Homo sapiens: one gene and its partners. The protein of the gene in region 2 interacts with the protein of the main gene of each other region in a pairwise test. Each region holds a gene or a part of one and is shown on either strand. Other genes may lie near its edges.

Region 1 (7,031 bases), on a different chromosome or scaffold from region 2:
TGTTTTTTTCCAAGGAAACTGTGTCTCTCTCCACTGTCACCTGCACACACTTTTTCTCAGACTGCATTCATGATTTGGCTCATACCAGTCTTCAGTGCAGAATTCCTTTAATTTCTTCTCTATGCGCCCAGGTCCCACCATTCCTTAAAGGAGGCTTAGATTGCACATTTCTAAGAAACATCCCCCCAGCCTCCAGCTCTGAGGCCCTCTGTCCCCTCGCTCCTGGGACACAGACTCTCTGGCATTGTTCTGCCCCACAGACATTGACTGACTCTTAGGCACTAGTGCTCCAAGTAGCTTACAAGAAATTTCAGTTGACAAATATTTGTAGGCAATCCTACATCCTACTTAATACCTTGTGCTAAACTGGCATTCCCCAAACATTTGTTCCTTGTTTTATTTTTTTTTTCCTCATCCCATTTATCCACCTACCATACATCAATCTTTGCTCATGAAGGAGTCTCAAACAGACAGTGGTGGCATTATGATGTAGCTGTGGCAACAGTATTTGGAAGATAGTTGAAAAGAGATGAGAGGAGGCAAGCGCCAAGAAGAAGCTGGCGAGGAAGCAGGAGGAAGCACCTGGAAGCCGAGTTTCCTTACCCATGAGAACAGGCAGCATGAGAGGAGCTTGGGAGGACACACTGCACCATATCAAGGTGTCGGCCTTCCTTTTCCTCCTCCTCTTCCTCCTTGGGCATGTTATGGAGAAACCCCAGGGACAGTGACTCCACCCGATGACAGTTCTCAATGCAAAAGGAAGAAACCATGTGGTCCATTCTGGTGGAGAGATTGATCTCAATCTTGGGGAAATAGTCCATGGCCCTTTGCACGAAGTCCTCCTCCTGCATCTCGTACAAACAGTAGAACAATTCCAGCTGGCTGGGCTGGATCTGCAGCTTTTTAGCTTTGGCTTTCACTTCAATCCATTTCAGCAGCTCCAGCCTGATTTGCTGAGAGATCTTGCAACTTAATTTCTTCTCCAAGTAGGAGGTCCTCTCCTGGTTTACCAGGCCAAAGAGGAAACGTACAACAAAAATCAAATACCCCTTTTCGAATTTGCCATAGTTTTCCAGAAGGACTGTCACGTCTCGGCTGGGAAGCTTCAAACGACTCCCTGGAACGTTCGTCCTTCCTTCCTTTTCCTCTTCCAGCAGGTAGTACATGGCGGCAAAGAACTCCTGGAAAGTCATGTGGATGAAGCTGTAGAACTTCTCGCAGTCCACTTCCTTTTGGAACAGGTTCATCCTCAGGAAAGCAGACACATCCGCCTTCTGCAGTCCATGATTCCTGAGGTCGGACTCCTCAAACAGGATTTTCTGGTTCCAGATTCCATCTGCAGCCAAAGAGCAGAGCCCCCAGAGGTGGGCGCAGAGGCCGTGCTCCTGGCTCCCTCCCCGGGGCTGCAGCAAACTGGAAAGGAAGAAGACGTACACCGCGGTGGTGGTCTTGGATGTCTGGGCAAGGCTCTTGCCACTCTCCATCTGCTGTTTCAGTCCAGTGCACACGATCCAGCAGACCAGGGGGATGAAGCACATGGTGAAGAGGACCTCGTTCTCCTGAATCAGACTGAAGGCTGCCCTGGCTTGGGCCTCATCAGAGAAGTACTTGAAGAAGTACTCTTTCCTTTTGGCCTCGGAGAAACCCAGGATCTCCACATGCCGAGGATGGTCCAGCAAGTGCTGCAGTTTCTCCAGGGCCACAGGTCTCGTGGTGATGAGCAGAGAGGCCTCGGGAAGCAGCTTCTTTCTGATGAGGCTGCTCAGGAGAATGTCTCCCCGCTCGGCCTTCTGCCAGTCAGTGCAGAGCGGTCCTATGTGCTCGTCAAAGGCACCTTGCAGCTCATCGAAGCCGTCCATGAGGAAGAGGATTCTGGAGGGTTTTCTCACGATCTTGTGGATGGGTGGGTTTGGGTCGGGGCAGCAGCTCATGATCAGGTCCCCCAGGCTCCTCTGTGTCACAAGGCTCACCTCTCGACAGTGGATATAGAACAGATAGTCAAACCTGTCTTGGTAGAGTGTCCCCGACGCCCAGTCCAACATCATCTTCCTGGCCAGGATTGTTTTCCCAATCCCTGCCGCCCCCTGGAACACCACGGTGTGCACAGGCTCAGAATGCTCATCATCGGGGTCAAACAGCAACTCCATCTTAATGGGACTCACGGGGCTCTCACACGTCTTGGTCTTGCCGATGGCCAGAAGCTCCTGCTCCCTCTCCTGCTGGCTCCGGTGCTCCTTGATGAGACGCAGTCGTGTGTAGCGTTTGTTGAGGCTCACACTCTCACCCAGACGGGCATTCCTGTCTTCAATGCACTGGAATCTGCTTCTCACGTACTTTCTGTACTTCTTACGGTAATCTACGGCAAAGACAGGAAGTTAGGGGGAAAGTATACACACATCCACCTGAGATGCGCTCTCAGCTGGGGCCTGTCATCGGAAGCGAGTGGTAACCGGAATGGAGAAATGGAAGGTGCAGCTCCTCCCCACTGGGTAGGAAAGGTGCCGAGAATCTCTGGTGTCAAGTTTTTAAGATACACAGCTGAGCAGAAGGCCCATCTCTATGTGTAGCTACCAGCCCAAAGATCATTTGAATCAATCTTATTCCTTTAAGTAATCTGCATCCTATGCCTTATCAAACTTGAAACGCTTAATCACCGCCGCTGGCTCTGGGACTGCAAGAGCCACACAAACATGAATTTGTTTCTTCAACTGACAATGGATTTCCTGAGACAGGCCTTTGCATTCCAAAGAGCAGGAACCTATAGTATGGCCAAGTTACCCAGCTGCTCAGCTTCCCAGAGCCTCCTGAACCAGGTCTTAAAACTCAACTAGAAGCACCACCCCAGTCGCTTACCTTTCTTCATTTTACAAATAGAGATTCTCGAAAGGTACTCCAGTAAACCCATCCACTCCTCTTCAATGCTGTCTTCCTGGCATATCACAGTGGGATTCGAAACACGTGCATTATCTGAACCTAAAAGGGAAAAAAAAGGTGTCAAAACCCAGAACTATTATCACAGAGGATGCAATTGAAACCTGGCCTAATATTTGGCATGAGAGAGGAGACCCCAAACATCCCCCAAATCAAAACATGGCTCTGAGTTGCAGAGGACAGGTATCCAGTCAAAAGTCTGGTTGGGAGCATTTCTGCACTCCTAGTTTCAAAACAACTTCTGCTGTCCACCTGCCAAGCATGTGTTCCCACTGTCCCCAGTCTCAGAATCTCTTCCTCAGGCCTGGAAATCAATCAGCAAACATGCGAAGCAGGCTAAGTTTCTTTTACCCTCGTTTGCTTTTGCCTGCCCCTGGCAGCCTGATTGTGAGGGCATCTCCAAGCTCTCCTATATCCCCAACACGGCTGTGGGCTAAGAAAGGTCACCCTTCCCTGACCGCAGTTCCCTGCAATCCATTTTACACACGTCTTCTATTGTCAAGTCTAGATGTCTGGTTCTTCAAGAGTGAGAACGACCAGTCTATTTCGTGCCTAATCTAGTGGTTGGGAATCCTGGCTGACTTTAGAATCACCCAGGAAGCTTTAAAAATATGGACTTCAGGACTGCACGCCCAGAGGTTCTTTTTCAGTCCCTCTGAGGTGAGGCCCAGGAACCATCACATACTAAAAGCTCCCAGGTGATTCCAACATGCATCTGTGTTGAGAATCACAAATCCAAACAGTCACTAGATAGCATATCTTAAGAAGGCATTCTATAGGAGAAATTCAGGTTAGGTAAAACAAGAGTTAGTCACTAGGGGAAATATATAAGACAGATAACTTCAGGTGGGCAGGAATCTACAAGTAACATAAATGATTTTTTTTTTTTTTTTGAGACAGGGCCTCACTCTATTGCCCAGGCTGGAGTGCAATGACACAATCATGGCTCCCTGCAGCCTCAACCTCCTGGGCTCAAGTGATCCTCCCACCTCAGCCTCCAGAACAGCTGGGACTATTGACACGTGCCACCACACCTAACTAATGTTTGCATTTTTTGTAGAGACAGGTTCTCACTATGTTGCCCAGGCTGGTCTCAAACTCCTGGGCTCAAGCAATCCTCCCATCTTGGCCTCCTGAAGTGCTGGGATTACAGGCATAAGCCACTGCGCCCAGCCCATAAAAGACCTCTGACAGCTGTCTACTTGGTAACCATATCACAAAATAAAATCCAAAAAATCTAAGCCAAAACCAAAATCTTATTCTTTTTTTTTAAGAGACAGAGTCTTGCTTTGTTTCCAAAGCTGGAGGGCAGTGGCATGGTCATAGCTCACTCCAGCCTGGAACTCCTGAGCTCAAGTGATGCACCCACTTCAGCCACCTGAGTAACTGGGACTCAGGTAGGAGCCATGACAGTAAATTAGCCAAAGTCTATTACCTAAAACCTAACCCCACCCCAGGAAACAAACAAACAAACTTCTAACCCTAGTTATAACTTTTCTGCCTCAAAATCCAGATATGGAAGCAAAGACGGTGTAGTGGTTAAGAGCCAGGCTTTGATCAGAGACATGCCCTGCTTTTTACCCCAGCTCTGGTTATGGCTAGAAATAAACCATGGGCCAGTTAGGATCTCTTCCAGGCTCACCTCATTCACTTGCAGGAGGGATAATACCAGAAGCTGTTTCATGGGTTTCTTGAATGTGCCATAAAATCCATAAAAACTGCTTAGCAAAGTACTTCTACAGTTGTGATTATGACACTTTCATTTGGGTATGTGAGTATATAAGTACTGACACAATGATAATTGCTTTATTTACTTAGAGATGAGGTCTCCCTATGTTGCTCAGGCTGGTTTTGAGCTCCTGGGCTCAAGCGATCCTCCTGCCTTAGCCTCCTGAGTAGCTGGGACTACAGGTGAGAGCCATTGCAGCAACTGGTTTCTGACCTCCCCCGGCTGCACACTGCTGTCTGTTTCCCCAGTGTCATTACACCCACACTGCTGCCCTGCCTTAACATGTGTCTCCCTATCCACTGACTCATTTGTACTCCTCCTTCCCATCACCACCAGCTCTACATCATCATCCTGCAATACCCTGCCCTTCTCTGAGCCCTACCTTTGCCTAGAACACAAGACAAAAGAAAGAACCTTATCCCCAATGTGTACATGGGGATTAAGAGAATTTCTTTTACATTCCAATTCCCAAAGTGGTGGTGAAAGGAAAGGCTTCTGCCCCAAACTCCACGGTTCTTCAAGGAGAGAGGCTGCCCTCTGGGCCATAGGAAGCAGAGGCCCAAGCCTGCTGACCACACAGCAGATACTGGACAAAACATGTGGTCTGAGAAGCTGGATGGAGAATTGGAGGCAGGTCTAGGCACTGCTGAGATTCAGATAAAGAGGGACTAATCATGGCAGGTGCCCAGGGGGTAGGTACAGTCTGCATCAGCTTTTTAAAGGAGTTAGAGAAAGCAAACAGTTTGCCTCCACCTTCTCATAGCACTACCGTGAGAGGGGAAAAGAGAAAAAACCAAGACAATACAAGAAAAAAAAATTTTTTTTTGAAACAGGGTCTTGCTCTTTAGCCCAGGCTGGAGTGCCGTGGTGCAATCTCAGCTCACTGCAACCTCCACTCCCCATGTTCAAGCAATTCTCCTACCTCAGCCTCCTGAGTAGCTGGGATTACAGGTGCCCACCACCACACCCGGCTAATTTTTTTTGTATTTTTAGTAGAGATGGGGTTTTGCCATGTTGGCCAGGCTGGTGTTGAACTCCTGACCTCAGGTGATCCACCCACCTCAGCCTCACAAAGTGCTGGAATTACAGGCATGAGCCACCATGCCCGGCCATGATTTAAAAAAAAAAAAATCATACTAACTTCTGTGCATCAAAGGACACAGTTAACCAAATGAAAAGACAACCCACAGAATAGGAGAAAATATTTGTAAATCATATATCTGATATGGGGTTAATATCTAGAATACATAAAGAACTCCTACAAGGCAACAACAAAAGCCAAACCTGGTCTGAAAATGAGAAAAGAACTTGAACAGAACTTTCTCTGAAGAAGCTCTATAAATGGCCAACAAGCAGTGAAAATGTGCTCAGCATCACTTATCATTAGGGAAACGGAAATCAAAACTACAGTGAGATACCACCTCACACTCATTAGAATGGCTACTATAAAAAAGAAAAAATAAATAAAAATAACGTGTTCTTAGGATATGGAGAAATTGGAACCCTTGTGTGCTGTTGGTGGGAAATGGTGCAGATGGTATCTAAAACAGTAGAGCAGTTCTTCAAAATATTTAACAGAATTACCGTATGATTCAGAAATTTCACTTCTGAGTATATACCCCAGAGAATTCAAAGCAGGGTCTTGAAGAGATATTTGTGCACCAACACTCATAACAGCATTAACAATAACAAAAAGGTAGAAGTAATCCAGGTGTTCATCAACAGATAACTAAACAAAATTTGGTATATGGTACCATGGAGTATTTATACAGTCTTTTTTAAAGGAAGGGAATTCCGACACATGCTACAACATAGTTGAACCCGGAGGACATTATGCTGAGTGAAATAAACTACTCATAAAGGAAAAAATGCTGTATGTTTCCACTTATATGAGGTACCCAGAGTAGTAAGATTCACAGAGATGGCAAATAGAATGGTGGTTACCAGGGCTGGGAGAATGAGGCAATGAGGAGTTATCATTCAATGGGTGAGGAGTTTCAGTTTTGCAAGATGAAAACAGTTCTGGAGACTGGTTGCACAATGTGAGTGTACCTAACACTACTGAACTGTACATTTAAAAATTATTACGGCCGGGCGCGGTGGCTCACACCTGTAATTCCAGCACTTTGCGAGGCCGAGGCGGGTGGATCACCTGAGGTCGGGAGTTTGAGACCAACCTGACCAACATGGAGAAACCCCATCTCTACTAAAAATACAAAATTAGCCGGGCGTGGAGGTGCAATGCCTGTAATCCCAGCTACTTGGGAGGCTGAGGCAGGAAAATCGCTTGAACCCGGGAGGTGGAGGTTGCAGTGAGCCAAGATCTCACCATTGCACTCCAGCCTGGGCAACAAGAGCAACTCCGTCTCAA
Region 2 (5,359 bases):
ACTGTAACCCAGACATTCCTTTCTATTGATTCCAGGTCTTTAGATAATAACTCTTTCAACCAATTGCCAATCAGAAAATCTTTGATTCTGCCTATGACAACATCCCCAGGTCTTGAGCTGTCCTGCCTCTCCAGACCAAACCACTGTACATCTTACATGTACTGACTGGTATCTTATGTCTCCCTAAAATGTATTAAATGTATAAAACTAAGTTGTAGCCAGACGACCCTGGACACATGTTCTCAGGATCTCCTAAGAGTTGTATCACAGGCCATCAGTCACTCACACTTGGCTCAGAATAAATCTCTTCAAATATTTTTACAGAGGTTGACTCTTTTTGGCAACACTTTCCCGGCTGGCAGTCAGGGTTCTACCTTCTGTCAAATTATGAGTGTTAAGTTCCACATAAGGGATTTCTGATTTCACAAAATAAGCAACAGGACCTTGAGTGGCTTTCAATAATTTCAGTGCAACAGTGCTGGGGACTTGTACCACCTCAGTAGCCAAAAGGAACAGATACAGGAACCCTGTTTGAGAATATCTGCCCTTTAATTTGCATTTAAAATCAGTTTCTTTAAATACTTTAGTTACAAGTTCTGAATAGTGAAGACAGAGTAGTAGATGCTGCAGGCACTCAGTATTGGCTCCCACCCCTTCCCCCCTCCCCCACCCCCAGGCCTCACTTCTTGGCTTAAGATACAAAAGGGCACTCTCTACTGGCCCTGGTGTCAAACGTCAGCAGCCTCAGGCCTGGATGCAGTTGGATACAAAGCCATGAATCCCAGTGGCTCCAAGGAATTCCAATGATTGTGCCCAGATCCACGGGCAACACACCTTAGAAATGACCTCATCCGTTTCACCACTAGGTACTAACACCCTCAGGGTGGTTTCCTACCCCAGTCCACGTCCTCCAGATCTGTGTCCTGCAGAGGAAGAGACAAGGCCCCGCTATAACGCAGGAAGGAACAAAAACTGCCTCCTCAGCCCAGGTGCTTACAGCAACTTAACTGAAAAGCTCAAGGCAATGTGAGTCAGTCTAGAGGAGACCTCCCTTCCCTAGTCTCTACCAGGCTCTGGCCCTTCCTCGGGACCACGCTTGGTCCCACTGCCATGATGTGCTAGAATCTGCTCTAAGAACAAGGTGCTAGAATGAGGCCCAGCAACCAGCAAAGGGGTTGGAAAGGGTTGCTACAGCCCCAGCTGTGTGAGATTGTGCCAAGACGAGTCTTCTTGGTGTCAGCCTATGATGGAGAGCGTGAGGGCAGGCCTGGGCTCTCCTTCTATGATGATTACAATGCATGACCTCAGGGGACCTCTGCCCTCTCCTCCCACTCACACACCCAGATCCCCTGGCCTGTGCTTCCTGGAAGAGGTAGAAGAGGCATCTTGAAGTCAATGACAACGGAGAATGAAGGTGCCATTGAAGAAGCAAAGCAGCACCTCTTTGCCTGTGTTCAATCCCTCCACACAAGTGGAATCAAGGGAGAATGTGCACAGCCAGGACAGAGGCTGCTCTGAGCTTGGGAGGCACAGCATCCTCCTAGAAGTCTCTGCAGAACAAACTTTCAAAAGATAGGAACTTAATCACATGGTCCCCAGGGGTTTCTCTATAGTATACCAGCACTAGGGAAAAGCAAAATCATCTTTGCAGAGAGCTGATGGAAGAAAGGCAGGAATATGAATGAGCATCCATTAAGGCTCTCTCTCTTAAGCCTAAGGAATTAAGATATTCGAGGCTATGAGACAGGTGCAGAGAGGGAGAGCCTGGCAGGAACGCCAAGAAAAGACCTGTGACTGCTGGTTACACAGTGCTCTGCTTCCTTGCTTGAGGCCAACAGCATGTGTCTGCCTGTCACCAGGCTAACCCGGGACCCATGAGGGGACAGGGAGAAGACTGGTTTTCAGTTCCTGCATGATCAACTTGTAGGGTGTGTGGGTTCCTCCTAAAGATCCAGGAGGAGGACTCTGGGATCCTCTACCGCTGCCTTGATTTTGCGGAGGAAAGTCACAGCCTCTCTGCCATCAATCAGCCGGTGATCATAGGTCAGTGCCACGTACATCATGGGCCGCACCTCTACCTACAGAGAGGAAAGGTAAATAGGTTTGTCTCCAGCAAGCCACAGCCAGCCTCGCTGAAGGAGATTTAGCACAGCCCATAAGAAAGTTCCTAATTCCAGAGCCTTTCCTATTGATGTTGCCTCTGCATATTTACAGTATTTCAAAGACCAGGACTTACCCTCAGTGCAAAGCTTCCCCACTCAGAAACAAAGTTTGCCAAGAAAACTGTCTTCTCACAACTGCCTTTTATTTTTTAAAAACATACTCTGCCCTCTAACGCATCTGCTGCCTACAAGGAAAGTTTTCCCTTCAGTTCTGGCTGCCTGTACTTGCTTCTCTCTGGGGTTAGAATTTAAAAAAAAAAAAAAAAATTAAGCCAGGGTCTACAAATTCTGGAATTGTATGTGTAGCTGGGTGTATGGGCATTTTCCAGGAAGATCTACAGACTGTGGTTTCACACAGGAGTCAGTAACCCAAAAGGATTCTAAACACAGGAGTTCCCAGAAAGCTTTTTTGATACCAACGTATCTTCTAAGGGCCAGCTCAAGCCCCTTTTAATACTTAATTCTCTGAACTCCCGGGAAATTTACAAGCTTTATCATACAACTTGGCAGCTCACAGACTGACATGCATAATTGTCATCTGTTTCCCAGGGGCAAGGGACCACGTTTCCAACTATATCCCCCACTCCATAGAAGCAAACAAGCCTCCTCAGCTCAGTGGTTCTCAAACTTGAATATGCATCAGGATCATCTGCACTTCTTCTTTAAGTCTGGGATGGGGTCTAAGAATATGCATTTCTAATAAGGTCCCAGATGATGCTGATCCAGACCACAATTTGATAATCAGTGCCTTAGCTATTAGAAACTAAGAAATGGAACTTAGGCCTGAAATTATAGTTAATGTTTTACAATTAGCATTTAGTTGGATTTCCCTTTCATCGAGACCTAGCCACTAGGACCTTAGAAGTGACGGTTCCTACCTTGCCTCCTATAGCCACTGGCCTGTCAAAGATGCCATGCATCCCCAGGATGGCAGACTGAGGGGGGTTGATAATGGGTGTTCCAAAGAGCGAGCCAAAAACGCCTCCATTGCTAATGGTGAAGGTACCGCCATCCATATCTTCAATGGCAAGTTCATTCTTTCGGGCCTAAAAACAGATTTCATAATTGAAATATCAAGCCAACCCAGTTTCCTTCACCTAAAGTCAGTCCATAATCCCAGCGCTTTGGGAGGCCGAGGCAGGAGGACTGCTTGAGGCCAGGAGTTCAAGGCCAACCTGGGCAACATAGTGAGACCCCCATCTGTATAAAAAACTTAAGAATTAGCCAGGCATGGTGGTGCACACCTGTAGTCCCAGCTACTTGGGAGGCTGAGGCAGGAGAATCGCTTGAGCCCAGGAGTGCAAGGCTGCAGTAAGCTATGACTCTACCACTCTACTCCAGCCTGGGCAACACAGCGAGACCCTGCCTCTAAAAACAAAAAAGCAAAGGAAGTCCAGAAAGCTTGTATCGAGATCGATGGCACAAGCGCTAGCTTCCGTGTGACAGTTGTTCGGCTAAGGTGTCTATGACCAGTGCTCCACCAGAGAAAAGGCACAATTTCATACAGTTGAAGACTTCAAAGATGATCTTTTCTAGCAGGTCTCATCTGATGAGATTTCAGTTACCAGAGCATGGTAAACTCCACCAGATATATAAAATACTTAGCTCTCATGGGCAACTGCTTTTCTCAGGGGCTATGCACTTGACTTTCCATGAGCACTGCTTGCTAGTGAGCCCAGCCTTCTGAAGGCTCTCTTCCCTCGCCTGCTTAGCAGCTTGTATACATCTTTCTACTTTACCTTCTCTCCCAGTTCAGTGATGGTCCGTTCAATATCTGCAAAATTCATAGCTTCCACATTCCTGATGACTGGAACCACCAGACCCTGAAGGGGGTGAAAAGCTGTTTTCAGTTGCAAATTAATAGTACCTTTTATAGTTAACAACTCCCTTGATTCAACCCATGGTATGCCCTCCCTAGAATACCTTCATTACTCAGTGTGATTAACAGAAAGTGTTAAAAGAATGCGGCATGGTTTAAAAGAAAAAAAAGGTTACTTTTACTAACTCCCTTCTAAAAATACAGAATTAAAGAAATGATTTCTCTTGTGTGATCTCCTTCACACAGATAAGGTGAGGGTCTAAGACCAACATTCCCCACCTCCTGCCCCAACATACCCGTGGGGTGGCCACTGCAACACTGATGTCAATATAATCCCTATACACCACCTCTTTGGTTGTGTCGTCAATCACTATGAGAGAGAAAATACATGTTACATACAACTCCCCAGGAAGGCCAAGACTAATGAGGTAATATGTGCATTAACAGAGTAAAAATCTGCAGAGCTTGATACAGTGTGGGCTGACCAACCACCATGAACACCACTGCATTATGCATGGCAGCTGGCATTCCACTTACTCCCATCCCAAGTATAGTATCTCCCAAGTCCCTGACTGAGCCTGGGCATAGGAGCATCCATTTCTTTGGCAGCCCTAAGAAGGGCTCAACACACTGGCTTCCATAGGATAGGTATGCACTAAACTCTCGTTAAGTAGCTCTAGTCAAGCCCTCCTTTAGCAGAGAATGACTAGGGTTAACAAATGTTCCAAAAAAGGGCAAATTAGCAAAGGAAAAGGGATATAGAGATACTACCCATTCTCTGCTTCCAACTCTCAACAAGAGGAAGAGGGGAGATCCAAGAGTAAGCGGGGTGATCTGGCTTTGAAATATGCTACCTCAAGAGATGGCAAACCAGCATCTGAAAATGTACACCTAGCAACTAATGGGAAAATAAAGGCTTGGGAATCATTTCCGCAGAAAGTCCATGTTGTATTGTTAGATAAGACATCCAGAGGAAGCATGTAATGTGAAAAAGAGGCCACGAGAACTTTTGAGAGCCGCCTACATGTGTGGGCAAGCAGAAGGGGGCCACTGAAAAAGATGAGAGCCAGTCAGGGAGGCATGAGAAGAATGGGAAAAAGAAGAGGTATACATTTGGGCAAAACAAAGATGGCCTTCTACCTCCCTAGAGCACCACTCAACAGGAGGGACTAGGGCTTCTACTTCTAGACCTTTAGGGCCCCTGACACTGCTGAGGATGGCAAAAGTAGCACTGACCCCTCTCCAATCTCCCAAGGAACAGAGAAGTGTGTCAACAGGAAAACAAAGTGCTTGTTAGGTCAACACTACAATGACGTAGGTAAGTAAAAAGGAAAGAAAATAAGCACCAGGTCCATGAGAGGCCAAGCCGAAGCTCCCA
Region 3 (7,031 bases), on a different chromosome or scaffold from region 2:
CTGAAAGGAAAGGATACATGCCATTAGTGGTTCCCCTTAGTTTAAAATTTTGTGTTTGTTACATGCTAACGGTGTCAGAGTAAACCATTTGATTATACATAGAAAAGTTCCAGCCTGCTGCTGCTGACTTCCTTCTGACTTCCAAGACCCTAATCTAACTAAAGTGTCCCTGGTGGTGGCACTGTCTGCCTCATCCCACCCAGGGAAGTGACTCGGACATGTTTGGAGCCTCACACCATCCCCAGGGCCTGCGGCCCTCCTTTCCTCAACACAGCCCCTCTCCCTCGGCCGCATCCTGCCCCTTGCTCCTGGAAAGCCAGAGTGCTGCCCCTCCTCGCCGATGCTGGGGACTCTCCTAAAGCAGGAAAACTCACTCCTAATATGGTTGCTTTAGTTCACCGAGATGCTGTTTCCAGCTGTAGCCTGGAACCAAGGGACTTGGATCCTGACTGACTTTTCTGCCTCAAACTCTAGGACCATGAACAAACCAGACAATTAATATGAAATTTCAGCAGCTTAAGGCACTTGCTAGGGTTTTTACAGCTGCTTGGTGATCCTGATCCTGATAAGCTCAGCACATCTTGGCCTCAGTGTGTTTGTCCAAAGCCGTCAAAGCTGGGTATCCCGTAAGTTGGAAGTGGTGCACATACTACAAATTCAGATCCATCGGCAGTGTTCGCCCTTCACAGTCATCTATGCCCAAAACTCAAACAATGAAAAACCAAAAAACCTACTAGCCTTTTACATCACCTTTACACCTACACTTCATACTTCTGGTGCCACGCTGCCAGTGCCAGGCTGGGTTTCCACCCACTCTGAGAAGGCCACTGGGAGGCCCTGCACTGAGCTCTCCCTGTGCTCCTCGCCCCCATGAAGGCTTCAGAAGAAAGAGGGGCAGCTCAGCCTTGCTGCTAACCCGGCCCCACCCCGAGAGGCCAGAATGAAGCACAAAACCTGAATCTGCAAAGCAGCAAGTTGAGGGTTTCCATTCTTTTGATAGGAGCAGTGGAAAGGACTGTCAAGGAAAATCAGGAAGGGGAGGAAATTTCAGCCCAAGTCCTGCACTCTGATAACAGCTGGCCAAGATGAAGCTTCTGTGGCTACAGAGGATTGGGGAAATAGGTGTAACCTGAGATTCTATCCCCACAAGAATGGTGGGAATCCCAGTTCCAACCAGGTAGAAGGGACCCCAGATATATTTAACAAAATCTCAAGAAAACACAAAACACACAGCCTGATGCTATAGCTCAGAAGGAAAACCAAGTTGGCAGCAGAGGGAGTCAATTAGTTACCTGTACTGTATCAGAGCAAGTGCAAAGCCAGTGAATTACAAGCAAGTGGCAAAGAAATGACATGCTTCCGGGTGAGCAGACTACTGCAAATGAAAAGAAGGCACATCCTTTGCCTAGAAGAAAACAGAACAACAGAATCCCTCACAACCATCTGATGCTGCCGAACAGCTGGAACACGGATTTCATCCAGAGGAAGAGCCCACAGATGAAATTACAACACTGAATGAGATTGTTTTTAAAAAACTGTAGATACAACTAAAGTGTATTTGAAAGAGCAAGAAGATTTAAAATGAAAGTAATGGCATAATGGAAAGACCTGAGATAATCTCAATGCAAGCATATTTAAAAGGCAAGAGATGGAAGCCCCCGGAAAGGACCTATCAGTATAGAAAATCGTCAGCAGTGATCAACACAAGGATAATTACTGCTCCTGAATTAGAAAATTAAATGGAAAAGACGATTGTTCAAAAGCATATAACATTCATCTATTCATTCCTTCAGCCAGCCATCCCTTTCACTGTCTCTGCAAAAAAATGCCTGGAATGTGGTTCACCTAATCCTAATGGTATGGTTTGAATTATGAAGTTGGAGGTATTTTCATCTTAGTATTTTTCAGCATTATTTGAATGTATCATTATTATCCTTTTTTATATTAATATAGCAGATCCAAACTTGGGGCCCAGATAGGTCAAAAACAAGTTACATCATTGGTTTCCTGTCACCCACCACAAGGCTCAACTTCCTTCTAGAGCACTCACCTCTGTTTCCCTCCAGTGAACCCCAAGTCACCCTTTGCGCCTTGACTCTTGCCAAGCTAACAACCCTGTGCTGCCCTTCCCACCTCTAAGGACTTGTTCAAATCATGCCCTAAATCTAGAAAAGCCAACCTTCAGCCTTCCACATCCTTCCCAGCTTTCTGAATTCCAAACCAATATCCACAACTTCAGGGAACCTTCCATGATTAGCCCACATCTGTCTACACTCCACATACCAGGGCACTGCATTAGACTGGAACTTAGGGATAAATATGAATGTCACATTGCTATCTATTCCGCCTGATATTCATGCTTTTAGTAACGAGTTTTGATGAGTCCTCAAGAACCCACATGGTCCAGACAATGTGTCAGTTTAAAATGCTGTAGAATGATAACCTAAACCAATGACCCTAAGTGACTGTGTGAGGCAGTGGCACCTGAGCTGGTGATTGAGGCTGGCCAAACACCCGGCATCCGCATCACAAGGAGACTATTCTCTGCTCAGCATCCCAGAAACATATTTCGGGAAAGGTATGTGTTACAATATTCACCTATCTGGGGACTCAGGACTGCATGCCTTTTAGTTCCAAGGGACTGATGTATTTTTCCTTGAATACATACAAACAAGACTAACTCCTTAGGAGAAAGGACTGCCACCTGAAACCGTCTACCCTGATGGGAGATGATGGCCAGTGCAAGCAAGCAGTTTTAGGGTCTCCACGTCCTCAAGTCTGCTTATATGATTAAATGTGTGACTCCAGTCCTGAGACAAGCTTCCTGGTTAAATTCCTATCAATATGGGGCTACACAGGAATTTTAATATGATGACAAATGTCAATTCCAATGTGCATAATTTGACACTCTACTGGCTTTGCCATTTATACTGATTGCCCACGTTATAAAAAGGGGCAAATTACAATCTCCAAGTAAACAAAAAACATACACAACTTCCACATACTGAGTTAGGACTTGATTTAAATGGACCACTTATCCCACCCCTGCTCCCAGGATTCTTATTGCTGTCCCATTTTCAAAAACTGTAACCTCACCTCAAAGTACATCCCAGGACTAAATGGGAAAGAGGTAATATTTCTCTCTTCTTCTCCCCAGGACTCCTGAAGAAAAGAATTTCTTACAAATGCTTTAATATTCAGGCGTGGGTTCAAGTGTAGAGCAATATCCTTTGATTTTCCTGCTAGTAGGTCAACATTAAAGCTTTTGAGAAAGAAAGAAAAAAAAAAACCTTAATTAACCAAGTAGGACAGAGTAGTGGCAATTTCAGCAATGTTAGTGACCAGACTTGAACTATGATTCTAACTCTATGAAACACACGTATCCACATGGACATGGGAATGCAGGTGAAGTTGAAATTTTAAACCCAGTCAGCATTCCACTAATTCGTTACTTGCAAAATAAAAATACGAAAAAAAAAACCCTTTAAAATCAGCGTTGAGGCTGAGATGTGGTTGGACAGAAATGGAAGGTTTAACGCTAAACTGAATGACTACTTCAGGCTGCAGGAGCCTGGGATCCTCTCAAGCAGGTATTCTCTTTTCATCATCTACCCGTGTTCCTTCCTTCTTGAAAGTATGCCACTTTCTAGGAAATAGCTCTAATTTCAAGCTTTCAGAAGGCTGGACGTCTGTGGAAAAAGTTGTTAAAGCAGAAATTTTCTAAATCACATGACAAGAGGGGCCCTAAAAAATGTTGCCTGGGCTGGGCGTGGTGACTCACACCTGTAATCCCAGCACTGGGAGGGCGAAGTGGGCGGATCACTTGAGGTCAGGAGTTCCAGACCAGCCTGGCCAACATGGTGAACCCCTGTCTCTACTAAAAATACAAAAATTCAAAAAGTAGCTGGGCGTGGTGGTGCGCCTGTAATCCCAGCTACTCCAGAGGCTGAGGTAGGAGAATGGCTTGAACACCCAGGAAGCGGAGGTTGTGGTGTGCTGGGATTGTGACACTGCACTCCAGCCTGGGTGACACAGTGAGGCTCCATCTCAAAAAAAAAAAAGAAAAGATGTTGCCTGATCTTACGGGGCTGCTCTGGAGTTCTACAAGGCAAGGATAGGCCTCGTGGACAAAAATGCTACTCTCTTGTCTGGCCAGAAAAAGCCGAGGTCAGAACACGGCCTTAGTCGGCTCTGCTGCCCACTGGCTGTTCACAATCTAACCACCTCCTGCTTGAATCATCTCACTTTGGAAATGAAGATTCTGACGCTAGCCCTTCTTCCAGCTCACAGGACCGTTCACGGGTGGAAGGCGGTAACAGGCACGGAAGTATCTGCACTGTGACTGGTACCGAAGGATACTGACCTTTTGGCATTTGCATTCACTTCTCCTTTAACGACGACAGTTCGTCCAGGGCCCATGGGGGTGTTCAACCTTGCAGCGAATGGCAGCCTCTGAAAAGAAGCCACAGTCAGGACCAAGAGGCCTGCAGAAAGCGATCTCCAGGGAAAACTCGTGTCCAAAGAACACTACGGAATGTTTCAGAGCCATGACCCTGTAAATCCCAGGAGGGGAGAGACAGTCTGCCTTGGTCCCAGCTGGGTCCCCTGCAGCAGCACTGTCCCTGGCTCGAAGCAAACACACATGATTACATTTTAGACGATGAAATGAGTGACAGGGTGGGACCCGATGCCCTCTGTATGAGTGAAACACGCCAGGAAGGCCCCCTGTGCCTGGGGTCTGAGGCAGTACTGTGTTCTGCCTGAAGGGGAAGCAGCCAAGCAGGGAGGTGCTGAGGAAATACACAGGAATGGCTCAGAGGCAGGCCTGGTTGACTCTCGAATCCGTCCAGGGACGGCACACAAATGCAGAGGGGGCTGCTTTGGGCCTCTATTGTGGATACAGGTTACTCGTAACAGCTCATTACAACTTAATTTTTATATAGAGTTAAGAAAATTTGGTGCTCTTCAAACCTTTGACACATAGTTCATAGGTGGTATTTTGGTGCAAGTCAAAGTGTGATTGACAGTCGAATCTTTGCTCTTGGTGTAGACAGTTCTGGGTGCGATTTTAGAAATGTCTCCTCCTCTATTACTAGGCTGTAGGGAAACAGTTCTACAGTAAGGAATGGAATGAATGAAGCTGCCCTCCACGGTTTAAACTGTTCATTTTCTATGCAACTTTATAAAATATTCCACATGAAATAACCCAGGCAAAAATACTCACAAGCTGGGGCGTGCCAGACTTTGGAACCTATTGGAAAAGAAACAAAACACAACAATGTTAGAAGGGGAAGAATTATAGTTTATAATCTGAAGTCTTGGTTGTGCTGAGCTGAGCCTGGCCGGAGCCTGGGATGTTCCTGCTCCACTCTGGTGTGACCTCCAGGCAGCTGGTGCTTTATGACGGAATGGTATGGTGTTGTGAAGGGCTACACGGGTTGAGAAGAGAGTCTGATATCCCTGTTCATCTGAGTCCTTTATCCTCCACCATAAATTAATAATTTTTCATAGAACTATATGAAATTTTTTTAAGAGACAGGGTCTTACTCTGTCATCCACACTGGGATGCAGTGGCTCAATCATGGCTCACTGCAGCCTCAACCTCCTGGGCTCAAGTCATCCGCCTACTTCAGCCACCCAAAGCTGGGATCACAGCCATGCGCCACCATGCCCAGATAATTTTTTAATTTTTTGTAGAGATGGGGTTCTCCCTATGTGGCCCAGGCTGATCTCAAACTCCTAGGCTCAAGCAATCCCCCCACCTCAGCCAAAGCGCTGGGACTACAGGCCTGAGCCACCACCTTCACCCAGCACTACATGAACTTCAAACGTGTCTTAGTTGTCCTTTCCAGGGTGCCCCCAGAATGCTAAGATTCTGTTCTGTCTGTGAGGTGTGAACGTGCCAGTCGGTAAGACCTCACTTTCTCCATTAATAACAGCGCATTTTTAAATTGCAGTTATTCTCCCAGGGGTTGAAGATACACATGGAAGTTCATTTGCCAGTGCACTGGCTGATGTTCAATATTTGGAAATACCCCAGAACAGTACTATTCAGCAGTTAAGAGTGAGAGAGTGCTTTTTACATAAGAACAGTGAGTGGCAGTTACAGAAACTGACAGGTGAATCATCAGCAAAAACTTACTGCGTGCCTGGCACCACAAGTATGTATCTCAATTTTCAAGTGATTACTTGCGTTCTAAAAGCATAATTTTCAAAAACCCAGCCTTCTTGCCATTTCATTAACATGGCAGCTAAAACAACATTTTTAAACCAGTGGCTCATTAAAAGATTTAATATTTACATTTTCTCTACTTATCTCTGTCAGTTCCAGACTAGATGCTTGGGTACTTTGTAAGTCCTGAGAAAAGATAATAAAGATTAATTTGTAACATCCAGTAGAAAATATTTTCTAAATATTTTATATTGACATATAAAAAAATTATAAATGGTACTAAAAATATGCTTGAAAACTATGATCCAAAAATACACTTGACACTGTGGTCCTTTCCGCCCCCCATCAGATTGGCAAACATTACAGAGAATAAGATGTAATGTCAGCAAGAAGGTGGGAGCATGGCTGTTGAGAGTGCAAACTGTTTTTACCCTTGTGAAGGGCGAGTTAGTATCTATCAAAATTTTCAATGCAAAGACAGTCATGTGTTGCTTAACGAAGGGGGTATGTTCTGAGAAATGTGTCCTTACATGACTTTTGTCATCGTGCAAACATCACAGAATATTACTTAACAACCTTAGATGGTACTGCCAACTACACACCTAGGCTGTAGGGTGTGGCCTATAGCTCCTGGCCAGTGAATCTGTACAGCAGGCACTGTACCAAATACTGTAGGCAACCAGAGCAGGATGGTAAGTATTTGTGCATATAAACTTACCTAAACATAGAAAAGGTATGGTAAAAATACAGTATATGACAATCTTATGGGACCACGGTTGTATATGTGGTTCATCTTTGACTGAACTGTCCTTATGCAACACATGACTGTGCTCTTTGACTCAGGCACTCCCAGCCTAGG

What was found. Proteins that work in one complex are often made in the same cells at the same time.
Region 1: the proteins of DLST (region 2) and NLRP3 interact in binary tests that used the Homo sapiens proteins (3 or more experiments, as listed by UniProt).
Region 3: the proteins of DLST (region 2) and LGALS8 interact in binary tests that used the Homo sapiens proteins (3 or more experiments, as listed by UniProt).

Annotation. Positions count from the first base shown.
Region 1 is NC_000001.11:247,419,172-247,426,202, reverse strand, and holds part of NLRP3 (NACHT, LRR and PYD domains-containing protein 3), read right to left. Parts: intron 2,974-7,031; coding exon 2,854-2,973; intron 2,357-2,853; coding exon 604-2,356; intron 1-603. UniProt on the Homo sapiens protein: Sensor component of the NLRP3 inflammasome, which mediates inflammasome activation in response to defects in membrane integrity, leading to secretion of inflammatory cytokines IL1B and IL18 and pyroptosis.
Region 2 is NC_000014.9:74,898,915-74,904,273, reverse strand, and holds the end of DLST (dihydrolipoyllysine-residue succinyltransferase component of 2-oxoglutarate dehydrogenase complex, mitochondrial isoform 1 precursor), read right to left. Parts: intron 4,352-5,359; coding exon 4,278-4,351; intron 3,986-4,277; coding exon 3,902-3,985; intron 3,209-3,901; coding exon 3,041-3,208; intron 2,079-3,040; coding exon 1,944-2,078; 3' UTR 531-1,943; downstream 1-530. UniProt on the Homo sapiens protein: Dihydrolipoamide succinyltransferase (E2) component of the 2-oxoglutarate dehydrogenase complex. The 2-oxoglutarate dehydrogenase complex catalyzes the overall conversion of 2-oxoglutarate to succinyl-CoA and CO(2).
Region 3 is NC_000001.11:236,540,981-236,548,011, reverse strand, and holds part of LGALS8 (galectin-8), read right to left. Parts: intron 6,359-7,031; coding exon 6,302-6,358; intron 5,252-6,301; coding exon 5,225-5,251; intron 5,098-5,224; coding exon of another isoform or gene 4,972-5,097; intron 4,453-4,971; coding exon 4,364-4,452; intron 3,263-4,363; coding exon 3,097-3,262; intron 2,851-3,096; coding exon of another isoform or gene 2,791-2,850; exon of another isoform or gene 51-2,790; intron 1-50.